Regions from separate parts of the Homo sapiens genome. Here all the other regions are reported to be linked to region 2. Evidence: microRNA targets listed by miRTarBase, many of them from high-throughput screens and not tested one by one. Region 2 holds a microRNA gene; each other region holds the end of a gene's coding sequence.

Evidence for each region. Region 2 holds the annotated microRNA hsa-miR-3943 (UAGCCCCCAGGCUUCACUUGGCG, at 2,695-2,717, shown strand). A microRNA usually pairs through its seed, bases 2 to 8, with sites in the 3' UTR of a target mRNA and lowers its output. Matches are read on the target gene's strand: a 7mer-m8 pairs with bases 2 to 8, a 7mer-A1 pairs with bases 2 to 7 and ends in A, and an 8mer does both.
Region 1: miRTarBase lists STMN1 as a target of hsa-miR-3943. Seed matches in the 3' UTR shown: 7mer-A1 at 3,530-3,536.
Region 3: miRTarBase lists PNMA5 as a target of hsa-miR-3943. Seed matches in the 3' UTR shown: 7mer-m8 at 3,030-3,036.

The regions. Positions count from the first base shown.
Region 1 is chr1:25,897,322-25,901,492 of GRCh38, forward strand. It overlaps STMN1 (stathmin 1), which reads right to left. Exons shown (of 5, transcript NM_005563.4): 4 at 4,170-4,171; 5 at 2,795-3,766. The coding sequence ends at 3,695. Among named protein-coding and RNA genes, the nearest start is that of STMN1, 7.0 kb to the right of the region's middle.
Region 2 is chr7:43,148,223-43,152,434 of GRCh38, forward strand. It overlaps MIR3943 (microRNA 3943), which reads left to right and starts at 2,673; the gene lies at 2,673-2,772. All of the region lies in intron 2 of HECW1 (HECT, C2 and WW domain containing E3 ubiquitin protein ligase 1), which reads left to right. HECW1-IT1 (HECW1 intronic transcript 1) reads left to right here. Exons shown (of 7, transcript NR_135295.1): 5 at 419-605.
Region 3 is chrX:152,986,896-152,991,107 of GRCh38, forward strand. PNMA5 (PNMA family member 5) reads right to left here. Exons shown (of 4, transcript NM_001184924.2): 4 at 1,929-4,212. The coding sequence ends at 3,357. Among named protein-coding and RNA genes, the nearest start is that of PNMA5, 5.1 kb to the right of the region's middle. RefSeq lists an enhancer at 2,958-3,457.

The DNA.
Region 1 (4,171 bases), not on the chromosome of region 2:
AAAAAGAAAAGAAAAAATTTGGCCTTTATCTTCTGTATTCCTAAATGAACCACATTTAACAGTGATTCAAACAAATGAATTCGCAGTAAGGTAGCCAAACTGTCATCTGGGTGCACAGGTTTACCGGGACAGCTAAAACATCACTGAAAATCAGAATTCTCCACTGGGAGAATGATACAGAGTAGACAGGAGCACCTTTATAAAGGTGCTGGGGGTGGGGGATGAGACCTCACTCCAAGGCATGCAAGGATAAGAGGCCCTGCCTTTTTAAGGAGGTGGGAACGGCTGAATAGTAGGGCTTTCATTTGCTGAGACTTGTGAGCAGGTCTGAGGCAGAGGGGAATTGTTCCGGGCAACGAGGGGATGCTGAGCTGTCAGAGCAGCCCCCCTTCCTGTGCAGGGCTTAGAGCAGATCTGCCTGGGTAAGCTTCTCCTACTAGCTTAGGACCTTGGGTACGTTACTCTGCCTGTTCACTTCTCTATGGTGGAGAAAATGAACACGATGCCTGGACGTTAAGTGCTCAGTAAATAGTAGCACTGCCATTTTCCCAAGTGGAGTGATTTCTTTCTCCTCCAGCTTCCCAAGTTTAGAGCACATGTCCCAGTTCCTCAGTGCAGTGTCAGTCACATGGATTGCTCCAGAGCCCAGCAGGCCCTCCCACCTCATCCCTGTGCTGCCCCAACAGCCACCATGGCCACCGTAGCCTGAACGGCAGCCACTCTCCAGTCAACTCACCCTGCCTCCACTTTCTCTTCCTTAAAATGGTTTTGTTACTGACCACTGCAGCCCCCCACATTCAAAAGCCTTCAAAGAGCCTCCACTGCTTAGAATAAAAAAATGGGGAGGGGGCCTGCCTGGAGGGCCTGCCAAAGGCCATTAACTATGGCAGGTTCTCTGTGCACGTGGCAATCACAGGCTTACTAAGTGTTTAACAATTAAGTGCTTTATTGGGGTTTGGCTTGGAAGGTTCATCTGACTTCCAAAAGGACAAGCTCATGTCCTTTCTCCTCTCAAAGCTTCCCAGACCACAAAGCCCTCTGTGGTCACTCCTTTCACCAAAGCACTAAAGCACCCTGGTGAGTACAAGTATGTGGTCGAGAGCCTCACCCTCAGGTAAGTAAGCATTCTACAGCTCTCCTTCCCCTCACATGGGCACGTGATATGCTGGTCCCACCCCATCTTTTCTCCATCCCTAGCGCAAAGGCCAGTGTGGAGCACAATCTAGGTGCTTGTCAAATGTTAATTTAAGGGCCTCCTTCACGTCCTTCAAACCTCTCTCCACTGAGCCCAGTCAACCATAAGGCCCAAGTACAAAATCCTCAGGAAGGGACAAGCCTCATTTTCCATTCAAGACAAAAGGAATGGAGTCTGCTCCTTGGTGACAGCCCCAACTGCTTGTCAAACCACTCTGGCCTTATTAGGCCAATCTATTGGAAGTACTGCTGGGAGAGGCTGGCCCCACTGGGACAGACGCAGACTCCCGTGATGGCAGAGAATGCCGGGCCCGGGAATGCATACCCAGAGACACTTCCCCAGAAGCTCGTAGGTGCCACCGCTCCTCCTCTTCACTCCAAGCCAGATGCAAAGAATGGGGGAGTGAAAGTTACTTAACTGATCTCCCCCAACCATCTCATTTTATCCAGGAGAAAATGGGGGCCCAGGACTAAGTGCTTCTCCAAAGGTCAAGGTGAAATAGAAAAGCCAGAGCTTCTATTTCTGTGGTAAGATGCATCCCCTTCAGTTTCCTGTGACTTAAGCCTGTCACAAGGCAGGGGCTCAGGATCGCCCTCTGATAGGAAGTCAGGGCCACCATGGGATGGGTGGTAACTGATGAGGCATCCTTTCAGGCCTGTTGATCCTTCCCTTGCTTTCTCCTGAGGCCAGTTTCCCTCCCTAAATGTCTTAGATGAACAAAAGCTCACTGCCACTTGTAGGACACCTCGTATCATTATGCCAAGTTTCTACCCTCAGGCCCTCTTTATATTCCCATCTATTCAGAACTGGTATTTTAAAGATCCCAGAGCACCTGCTATGTGCCAGAGACAGGAGCCAAGATGAACTGTGCTGCACCACTGCACACAAGCCTCATCCTGTCCTCTTGGTTTAGATATTGCTCAGAACCTATTGTTGTATTCAACTATACTTGCACTTGCTCCTATTTGCCCTACATGGGCGTAACTCCTTAAACCAAGCTTTGTTCAGAATTCCTCTGATTGATCATTTAAGTAAATTTAAAAGTCAATTTAAGGAATATAAAAACTGCATAATTTCCAACTCAAGAGTATAAACTTAGATCACTCATTAGCCTCTGGTTGAAAACAGTAATCGTGATTTATACGGAATGCTAAATATCTATGTTCTAAGTGTGCTCTCTTGCCACAAACCCATTTAATCCTAACAATCTTAGGAGGTAAGTTGAGGTAGGCTGTTATTGTTCTCATGAATAAGTTTGGTAAAACCCCAATCTCAAGATACAGCCCAAGCAGCAGAGGCACATGCGTTAGCAACACATGGACCCCACCGCAGTATTAGCAATCATCTTTTGCTATAAGTGCTTGGCTTCCAAGAGCTTTTATACAGATGTCTGAGAGGCACAAAATATGTATAATTAGGCTATTTCTCAAATAGCACAGGAAAGCTGCCAAAGGCGTTCCCTGAATTGAGAGGCAAAGCACTGACAATGGGGACTATTACAGCCTCTGGATACAAGATGACGTATCTGCCAACCTTAACCACCCGAGTCAAATGCTACTTTAGAAATAATTAAGGTTCCCTTTAGTCATTTCACAGGAGTTGCTACAGCAGTACATAAAGTTTTATTAATATTCTGATTCTCGTGTCATAGCTTTTATGGCAGGAAAGGATGAGGACATGCCCCACCTGTAACGTAGAGCAAGCAAACCACCAAGTAGAATCTTGAGATTCTCTCTCAACTGTTCTCTAGAAACACGCTTGTGCTTTTAATCTGCCTTTTAAAAGGGACACAGAACAAAAAATGGTTGTTTGCAAATAAACATCTGAAAGAAAGTAACAGCTGACCTGGGCTGAGGCATCCAAACAAAGCAGTCATTGTGGAAGGAGACAATGCAAACCACACTGGGGCAAGAAACGGGGCAGAGAACGTGCGGTCATTTGTGCGTTGGGTATTTCTACCAGCCCCAAAGGCCCCATCTGGAACAAGTATCAACCAGGAGGGGCTCTATGGCTTGATTTATTAACCTAACTCAAAAGAAGTCACTGCCACCAACAGCACTGTGCAGTTTTATTAACCATTCAAGTCCAGTAGCATCTGGTAAGATTGGGACAGAATTGGGATTGAAAAGTGAACAGATATTCAGCATCTAACAGTTCAAAAGAAGCCACTACATACTCTTTTCACAAATATGTTTTCACAGAGCCAATACAGTACTAGCCATTAACCCAGTACACCAAGTGTACTGAAGTAGAAAAGATGCAACAAGAAAAATAGCTACATTAGAAAGACCAACACTTTAGAAAAAGAGTAAAACACTTTCAGTTTCTCCCCTTTAGCCCCTAAAACAACATCTTACAGTCTGGATCTGGATCTACCTATACAGTCCTACATTAGCTTCTAAAATATTTGTCAGGAGGGAAAAAATAAAATGACACTGGCCAGTACAGTCTTTGGATATTTAGGAAGGGGATGGGGAGAAAGTCAGTTCTCAGAACAAATTAGTCAGCTTCAGTCTCGTCAGCAGGGTCTTTGGATTCTTTGTTCTTCCGCACTTCTTCAATGTGCTTATCCTGTAAAGGAAGGGTAAGGTGTCATCAGTCAAAAAAAAAAAAAAAAAAAAAAGCCTGTCAAGTCACGACCCCCAGCCCCCACCTCAAAGAGGCCCAACACAACCTCAGTGCATATATTACAGCCTGTGGGAACCACACAATTTAAGTTCTGAGACATCATCATCAAATCTCCTGGGTCCCTTGTAGAACCTAACAAGCTGCCTACTGGACTTCCAAGGACTGTGCAATTATGCTGGGAATTACTGAATATTCCATCTTAAAATATACCTTTCATTTAATATGTTAAGCCCCAAAATGGATGACAAAAAGACACCAAACACCTTTTATCAAAGCACTTAGTTCAAGCCAACTCATTGGTGCATCAAACTCCAAGCTCAACCCTTTTACAAAGTAAGAAACCAACCT
Region 2 (4,212 bases):
GAGCTGAAATGGACATCAAGGTTGTCCCATTCTGTGTCTGGCCAAAATGCCTGGGCCTCCACATCCCTGTCTTTGGATGTGAGTCACCACTGAAAAGGCATGACCTTGGGTGAGGCTTGAAGAGGCTAGCAGCTGAAGGCATGTGCTGACAGCACTCCCAGCACCTGGCTGCAGTCCCTCCTGGAAGAGGATGTGCCTGCATGTCTCTGTGTCCTCATGCCCAAGCCATTCTGCCAGATGCTTTCCATCTAGTAGCTCTTGTCTTCACTGTGATCCTTAAAGTTAGCTAATATTTGCCCTGCCCTTTACATATGCAGAAACTCAGGTTCAGAGAGGTTAAGTAGCTTGCTAGGTAAACAGTGTTGGATACTTAAATTTGGGTCTGAGTCCAAAGCCTGTACTCTTTGGATTTCTCTAGAGAATGGATCAATCAAATAAGAAAAGAAGAGTGCATTGGGAGTCAGGAGACTGAGGTGTGGTCTGGCTCTGCTGCTAACTTCAAGTTTACACTCAATTGATCAAGTCCCTTGATGACATGGAACTAAAGTGACTTTTGAAGAACATGAGTACCTCAAGGATCTTGCTAAAATACAGATTCTGATCTAGTAGGTCTGGGATAGGGCCTGAGATTTTGCATTTCTAAGAAGCTCTCAGGTGATGTCTACACTGCTGGCAAACTGAAATCTCAGAAGACTCCAATGTCTTCTTCAGCCCTGAAAGTAAATGAGTCTCAAAAATGTAGGGACAGTTCTTCCCTACAGAAGAATTCCAATTGATAAACATAGAAGAAATTAAGGAAATACAAAATTACCATCAGAACACCCCTGTAATAATTGTGGCAAATAAAATCCACAGATGAATGCTAAAATTAGAAGCTAAAAAGTTTTAGGAGAAATACAATATTTGCATAGTATCAATGTATCTCCCCCTTAAATACGTATTGATTACAAAGAAAAAATAATGAGGTTAGAGCAGCGACCCCCTTAACCATGTGATCAAAGTCAATTATCACCAGTAATAAAACATATTGTCATCATGTTGACATATCGATATCACCTCCAGATATGATGCACTGAGAAAGACACATCACTTCTGTGTATTCTTATCCAGAACACACAACCTCAGTCTAATCATGAGAGAATATTAGATAAACCCAAAATAAGGGTCATGCTACAAAATAACTGTCCAGAATTTTTTGAAATGTCCACATCCTGAGAGACAAGGAAAGGCTGAGGAATTCTCATGGATTAGAGGAGAGCAAGGAGACATAACAGTATAATGTGGGATCTTGGATTGAATCTTGGAACAGAAAAGTGATGTTGGTAAAACATGCAAATGTCAGTAGTTTATAGTACTGTACCAATACTTAATTTTGACAAATGTATCATGATGATGTAAGATTAGATATTAACTTAAGAGGATGCTTGGTGGAAGATAAATGGTAACTCTGCCCTATTTTTGCAACTTTTCTATAAGCCTAAAATTATTCAAAAATTAAAAGTTAAAATAAAAATATTTACAGATATATTCTTCAAAATTTTTTTCAGACATATTTTATACATTAACACACTCATACAATAGGGTTTATTTAGACTTTATATATTGCATGATTTGCAAATAATGATGATTTTACTTTTAATTTTCTACTATTTTTACTTCTTTTTTCATCAAAAAAAGTAAAACTCAAACAATTTTGAATTACTGTAGTGGTCATAGATATCTTTTGGCATTGCTGAATGCAATGCAATTCTATTTCATAGAATGTCCCTTATTTTGGGTTTGTCTAATATTATCTCATGATATCTTCTTGCAGTGCAATATATCTTATGGTTAAAAATGATGATAACTAACATTTATTGTACTTACTGCAAATCAGGCACTGTGCTGAATTGTTTTAAGTGTCTTACTTCATTGTTCTGCCCAATAACCCTATTATTTTCACTATTTTACAGAAAAGGAAATAGAGAAGTAAAATAACTTGCTGAAGTTCACATAGTAATTTGTGAAACCAGGATTTGAACCAAGGTTACTTAACTTTCTAAGAAAGCTTTTAGTTACGCTGTCTATAACACTGTGTATTCCTCTGACCAATTGATTTCAGTTAGATTTGCTTTAACATTGGAAGGCTACCGTCACTGAACCAGCATTTTATTTCATTTTATTTTATTTTATTTTAGATTGAGTCTCACTCTGCCACCCAGACAGGAGTGCAGTGGTGCAATGTCAGCTCGGTGCAACCTCTGCTTCCTGGGTTCAAGTGATTCTTATGCCTCAGCCTCCTGAGTAGCTGGGATTATAGGCACCTGCCATCATGCCTGGCTAATTTTTGTATTTTCAGTAAAGATGGGGTTTCACCATTCTGGCCAGGCTTGTTTTGAACTCCTGACCTCAAGTGATCCACCTGCCTTGGCCTCCCAAAGTGCTGGGATTACAGGCATGAGCCACTGCATCAGGCCTGGATCAGCATTTTAAAGATGGCGTCACAATGGCAAAGAAACCAGTCAGTGCTTTGTGATCCTCCGCCCAGTACAGGCACAGCAGGGCATCCAGAGAAGATAGGAGTCCCAAGTTGACACCTGCCACATTCTTGGCTCAGAACAGCTGTGGCTGGGAAGGTCCATGGGCCAGGGAGCGGGTGATGAAGGACTTCAGCATCTTTATCAGCGCCCCCCCACACAGACGGCAGCTGCGGCCTAGCCCCCAGGCTTCACTTGGCGTGGACAACTTGCTAAGTAAAGTGGGGGGTGGGCCACGGCTGGCTCCTACCTGGACAGGCCTCCAGCTAACTCCGGGCTTGCACAGCAAATACAAGAAAAAAAGAAACAGAAAAATCAGTTCATGTGCCCTTTCCTGACTTCTCCTGGCACCTACAGCCCTGACTGCAGAGATGGTCCCGTGGTCCCAAGACAGAGGCTGGAGAAGTGAGTGGAGCCAAGAGGCAGAAAGATCTCAGTAATTTGGAAAAAATTCCCAACTGGGTGCAGCTGGCTACACCTTTTCTTCCCCAGGTGACACTCAGGGAGGATAACATGATCTCATAAGATTATTTTTGGGGTTTCCTTGACTTAGAGTTTCCATTCTTTAGTATTCTGCCTGGGGCACAGAAAGTACTTAGTAAACCTTGTAAAAATGATTGATTTACACTTTTCTTTGATAAACATGGACAGACAATGAAGGATTTTAACTGAAGACACTTTAAGAAAAGCAGCAGATCAGATGGGTTGGGGGAAGATGTGAAGTGTTTGGGAAAATGCATAAAACAGAATTAATTTTTAAAATAAAAATTGAAGAACATCTCAATTAGCAATCTCAAGGAGAGTTGTGGGGGATATTGTGCCAAAAAAGTAGGCTGCTTTGAAAAAGGAAATTTAAAATGTGATTGCTGAAGGAGCCCCACTGATATTGGCAACAAATACCAAATAAACATTGCTAAAAATTGAATTAGGGATTTAGAAACTAACTTGAGGGGTTTTCACAGAACATAGAATGAAAATATAAATAGGAATTACAAGATAGAAGTGACTGAGAGGATAGATTTAGTGTATCCAACATATGTTTATTCTCTTCACTCTAATTGGAACAGATGGAGAAGGGATAATATTTAAAGATATATAAGAGAAAATTTACCTAGGCTAAAGAAAGATTTGAGGTTGCTGGTGAAAATTTCTCCCAAACCCATACAAGATATTGAAAAAGACACATACATATACATATCCTAATAATATGTTCTAATTTCATGAGTAAAGACATAAATTCTATAGATCTCTAAACTAAAAAAAAGATGGGAGAGATCAACCTAAAGTGTCATCAAACAGCTCATTTACCACACTAATTGCCTGATGACAAAGGAGCAAGATTCACCAAGATTGTGAACCTGGATTCCTTTGTGTAGACAAACTAGTATTTGTATAGCTACAAATGAAATATACTTTGAGATGTGAAAATACTTAGGAAATATTCTGTTAATGCATAATTTCTGGGAAAAAAAATGTTCAAGGACCTATACCACTCATTAAAACCCATCAGAATACAGAACAAATACAAGTGAAAGATAGTACATACGTGAGACAGTTATAAGCATTGAAAGCAGTAATCTCACAGGTAAGCCAAAATGTATTTTGAAACTATGTATTTTGGGAATACAACTGTGAACAAAAAAGTCCTAATAATAAGAGGCATAAATTAATAAAATCGTAACAATCCAGAACTAAA
Region 3 (4,212 bases), not on the chromosome of region 2:
CAGCGACATGCATGCTCACCTTCAATGGCACAGCCTCATTCCCCCACACCCTCCCACTCACACACGCTCAGTGATGCAGTCACATTCTGTCACTTGGATTCACACACATTCTCAGAAACTCATGCACATGCTCACACTGACACACACACGCACACGCTCAAACACACCCGCTCACTCACACTCACACCTGCTTGGGAATCACGGCACACACAGGTCCACTCTGAACAGGGAAAACCAAGGAGCCCTGACAGGCCCTGGCAAGGTCAGCCAAGCTCTATGCCCTCTCCTCTTGCCCTGTCCCCAAAATCTGGAGGGGCCCTTGGAAAGTGAGCAGTTGACTTGGCCCTGCTGAGACACAAGGGACGGACATGCTGGGGTTGTGCCCAGCCTGAAGAAGGCAGGGAGAACAGAGCACAGTGGGGGCCCCAGGCATGCCTGCAGGGCACCCCGATGGGACACACTACAAGGGTCCCTGAGACACCGGTTAAGCACCTTCAGGCCGGGGAGGCTGCAGGCCCAGCCCCAGAGACCTGCCGCCCCCTGCCCCTCCCCGACAGCCCCGCAAAACTACCCCTCCCATGCCTGCACTGGCCTGTGTATGCCGAGTGTCTCCCAGGGCCCCTGCCGCCCTGCAGACCTGCTGACTGCAGCTCCGCTCAAGCAGACAGGTCGCCTAGATCCAGGATTCCTCAGCCCAGGTGGGCAGCCACCCATTCCCAGCATTGGCTCTGAGGCTGCTTTGGGGGAGCCTGGCTATCATCTGAGCCATGGGGATGGCCGGAGGCTCTGTGCTCCAGAACAGCCGGAGGAAGTGTGTGGACACAGACTGAGTGAGCCCCGGGAGACCCTCGCCACGTCCAAGTCAATGATCCCGTCCCCTCCCCACACATGTGCAGGGAGGGGCCTATCACTTGTCCCAGTTCTGTCGCCCACAGACTCTGGGCTAGTTAAATGGCTGATCGAGGACTACCCTCCATTTGTGGCGAGCTCCCTGGCCTGTTGGGAGAGAGAGCCAGTCCCAGGAGGGCTCAGGAGGGCGGGTTCCAGGATCCTCAGGCCCCCACCAAGAACTGCCCCTCTGGCCACAGTGCTGAAGGAGGGGTGTCTGGATTAGCAGCGCCGTCCATCCTGAGGGAGCCCTCCTCAGGCAGCATCCAGGGCTCAGAGGGCCTCGGGGATGCAGGACAGAAAGGGGTCACTCCCCAGGGCCATCTAGGCTTCCTGCTCATGGCCCACTGCCTGCTCCCAGGACACAGGAGTAGAGCGCCTCCCAGTACACTGGGAAGGGAGCAGGACAGGACCCAGGATGAAGTGCAGCTCCCCCGCCCTTCCTCTCCCCCTCCCCAAGACATGAGCACTTGGGATCCCTTTCTCGCCCACACTCTGTCCCCTTGGCCATCACACACACACTGTCCCCAAACATCCCTCAGTGGCTAGGCCAAGGCTGGCCACCTGCGGGCTGATCTGGGAGGATGGGCACACACCAGCCCCTACCCCACCCCGAGTCCTGCACACAGCTCTTCACAGGGCCTCTGACTGCCTGTCCAGGCCCTCCTGGGGCTCTTCTCTGACCTCGGTTGCTGGCCTTGGTTGCACACGTGGCCTCTCTGACCCTTCCGGAAGCCTTGAGCCACACCCCTACAGTGCTGCCAGGGATCAGGGGCCTGGGACCCACCTGCTGCCCCTTGCCCAGCCTTCAATGTCCAAGTCACTTATTCCTGAGGACACCTGGAGTGCCTTTGGTACCCAGCCAGTCACTGCTCATGACCACCAGCATCCTGTTGCCAGGCTCCATGCAGCCCAAGGCACCCCACAGGCCCTCATAGACCCTGCCCCACACACACCTCGATGTCAGCCTGGCCACTGTGGCCCCATCCCCAGCAGACCACCTCCCACCCCAGTTTCACACAGCAGAGGCAAGACACCACTGGAACACTGAACAAAATTTACTGAAGAGAAACATGAACTGAAACTGCTGAAGAAAAGGGAATCTAACACAGAGAGAAACTGCAAACAGCCACTACAGGTCACAAGTCCCCGGCCCCTCCCTCAGTGTGGCCCCCCCCACCACATCCCTCCTTCCATAGGGCCCCAGGATCCACCTCTTGCCAGGATGGTGGGCTCTGGCAATGTGTACTCGCTTCAGGGAACCCCCTCCTGAGCCCACCCGCTGGGGCAGGGCCCTGCCCTATAGACTGCACAGGACAGTCACAGGATGCTGGAAAACATAGCAGGGAACACCCCACCAAGTTGAGGAAACTGAGTCACGAGTAACAGCAGGGGTGGAACGCCAAAGCACAAAGCTTCCTGGGGAGCCTCAGGCAGCCCTGCTCCTTCCCGTGTCTGGTTGGTCCTCCTGCAGTCGAGGTCACAGTCACAAGGTGAGCGTCTGCCATGCCTCCTTCCCACCGTCTCCTGGAACTGCGCTGGGGTACTCTGGAAAGGAGCTGCTCAGATAAAAACACACACATCCCCAAGAGAACAAGCAGCCACTGGCCGAGATCTACACCGGCAAAGCAGAGGTGGAGTTCTTGACACGGAACAGCAGTGAGCAGAGCCCGGGCCTGATGATGACGCAAACCAAAAACAACTACCCACCCCCAACACATCCTCTCTTCTCTTCTTACACTTCTTCCTCCTCCTTCCCCTCTTCCTCCTCCCCCTCTTCCTCCTTCTCCTCCCCCTCTTCCTCCTGCTCCTCCTTATTCTCCTCTTCCTCCTCCCGATCATCCTCTTCTTAATTCTCCTCCTCTTTCTCTTCCTCACTGGTGCAGGGGCTTATGAATGCTGCCTTCCTGGGGCTCCCCTCATGCAGTGTAGATGATCCTAAAGACAGGCTGGACCCTGTGGCCTCCCCTGCGGGGCTTCACTTCTGCCCCACAGCTCTTCCTCAGCAGCCCTGGCTCCTTCTGGCAGAGGCAGGCCCCAGGCAGGCTCCTCCAGGTCCCACGTGGCCTGGGTGCCAGTGGGCATGCTCAGCTCAAAGTCCACAGGGTAGATATTTGGGGGTGTCCAGAGGACCAGGCCAGAGCCCCCAGCCACACCTTCTTCAGCCCCTGCTTCGCTGGGGTCCCCATCTGAAGCCCAGGCACCCCATGTGCTAAGTGTAGTGGTTCCCCGCTTGTGTCTCCTGTACCTGTTAGGGGCTATGGGCCCGGCCCCCACTGAACCAGATGCTATTTGGTCTTGGTTGGTGAAGTCCCTTCCAGCTGGTGGAAAGTAAGGGGGCTTGATCTCGACCTGGCTTCCCTGTCCCTCTGCCCCAGTCAAGTTCCCTGTTAGTGTAAGCTGCCCCTTCCCCTTGTTCAAATGTCCCTGCTGCCTGCCAGGGGAAGGAGTGCTTCGGTCTTCTGAGCCTATGTTTCCCAGGGCTTGGGATGGCTCATGGCCCCAGCCCCTGCCTCGTTTCCCAACTCCTCTCCTGCAGCCTGTGGCCCCTCCCTGCCTGGAGTCTGGTTTTCAGCCTTGGGATACGTGGCCTGGCCATGGTCTTCTCCCCTAGTGCTTTCACTGCCTAACAGCCGCCTGCGTTTCACTAATGGGGGTAAGCCTCCCTGTATGGTCTGGGGGCTGCTGTCGCTAAAAGACCTTGCCTGCACGGTGGCCTGAGGTGCAGAGACACTGGCTTCTGCTCTTGCCTGTCTACCGGAGGCCCCCCGGCCTCTCCCTGATGGCTTCTCCTTATTCTTCATCACTGCCTCAGTGTTCTCCCACTCTTCTTCATCTCGAATGAGCTTCATTAACTCCAGAAAATTGGGAGGACACCCTCGCTGATCCAAGAGCTCCAGCTTGCCCCTGAGGGCGGGGGTCATGGCGACCCGAGCTAAGAGATGTTTCAGACGAATCATGTCTGTGCTGCGCACTGACAAGGGGCTCTTGTGCACGGCTTTCTGCAGCAGGGGCTCTAAGCGCAGCAGGAAAGTGGAGACTTTCTCTCCAATCTTCGGAGAGGTCTGCAGAAACCTAAACTGAGAGGCTCTAAAGTCCTCTTTATCCCCAAAGATCTGCTTTAGGGCGTCAAGGCACTGCTCCACAGTTATGGAGTCATTGTTGGCCTGGAGCACCCGCATGATTGACAGAGCAGGCCCACGTAAGCTCTCCAGCAAACGCCGCCTCTTCTCCACCTCAGACACTTGCCATATGGGCATTATCTCAGTGACCTGCTCTAGCCAGTCTTCAAAGGTCTCTTCGCCTGGGCTAGGGGAAGCAGTT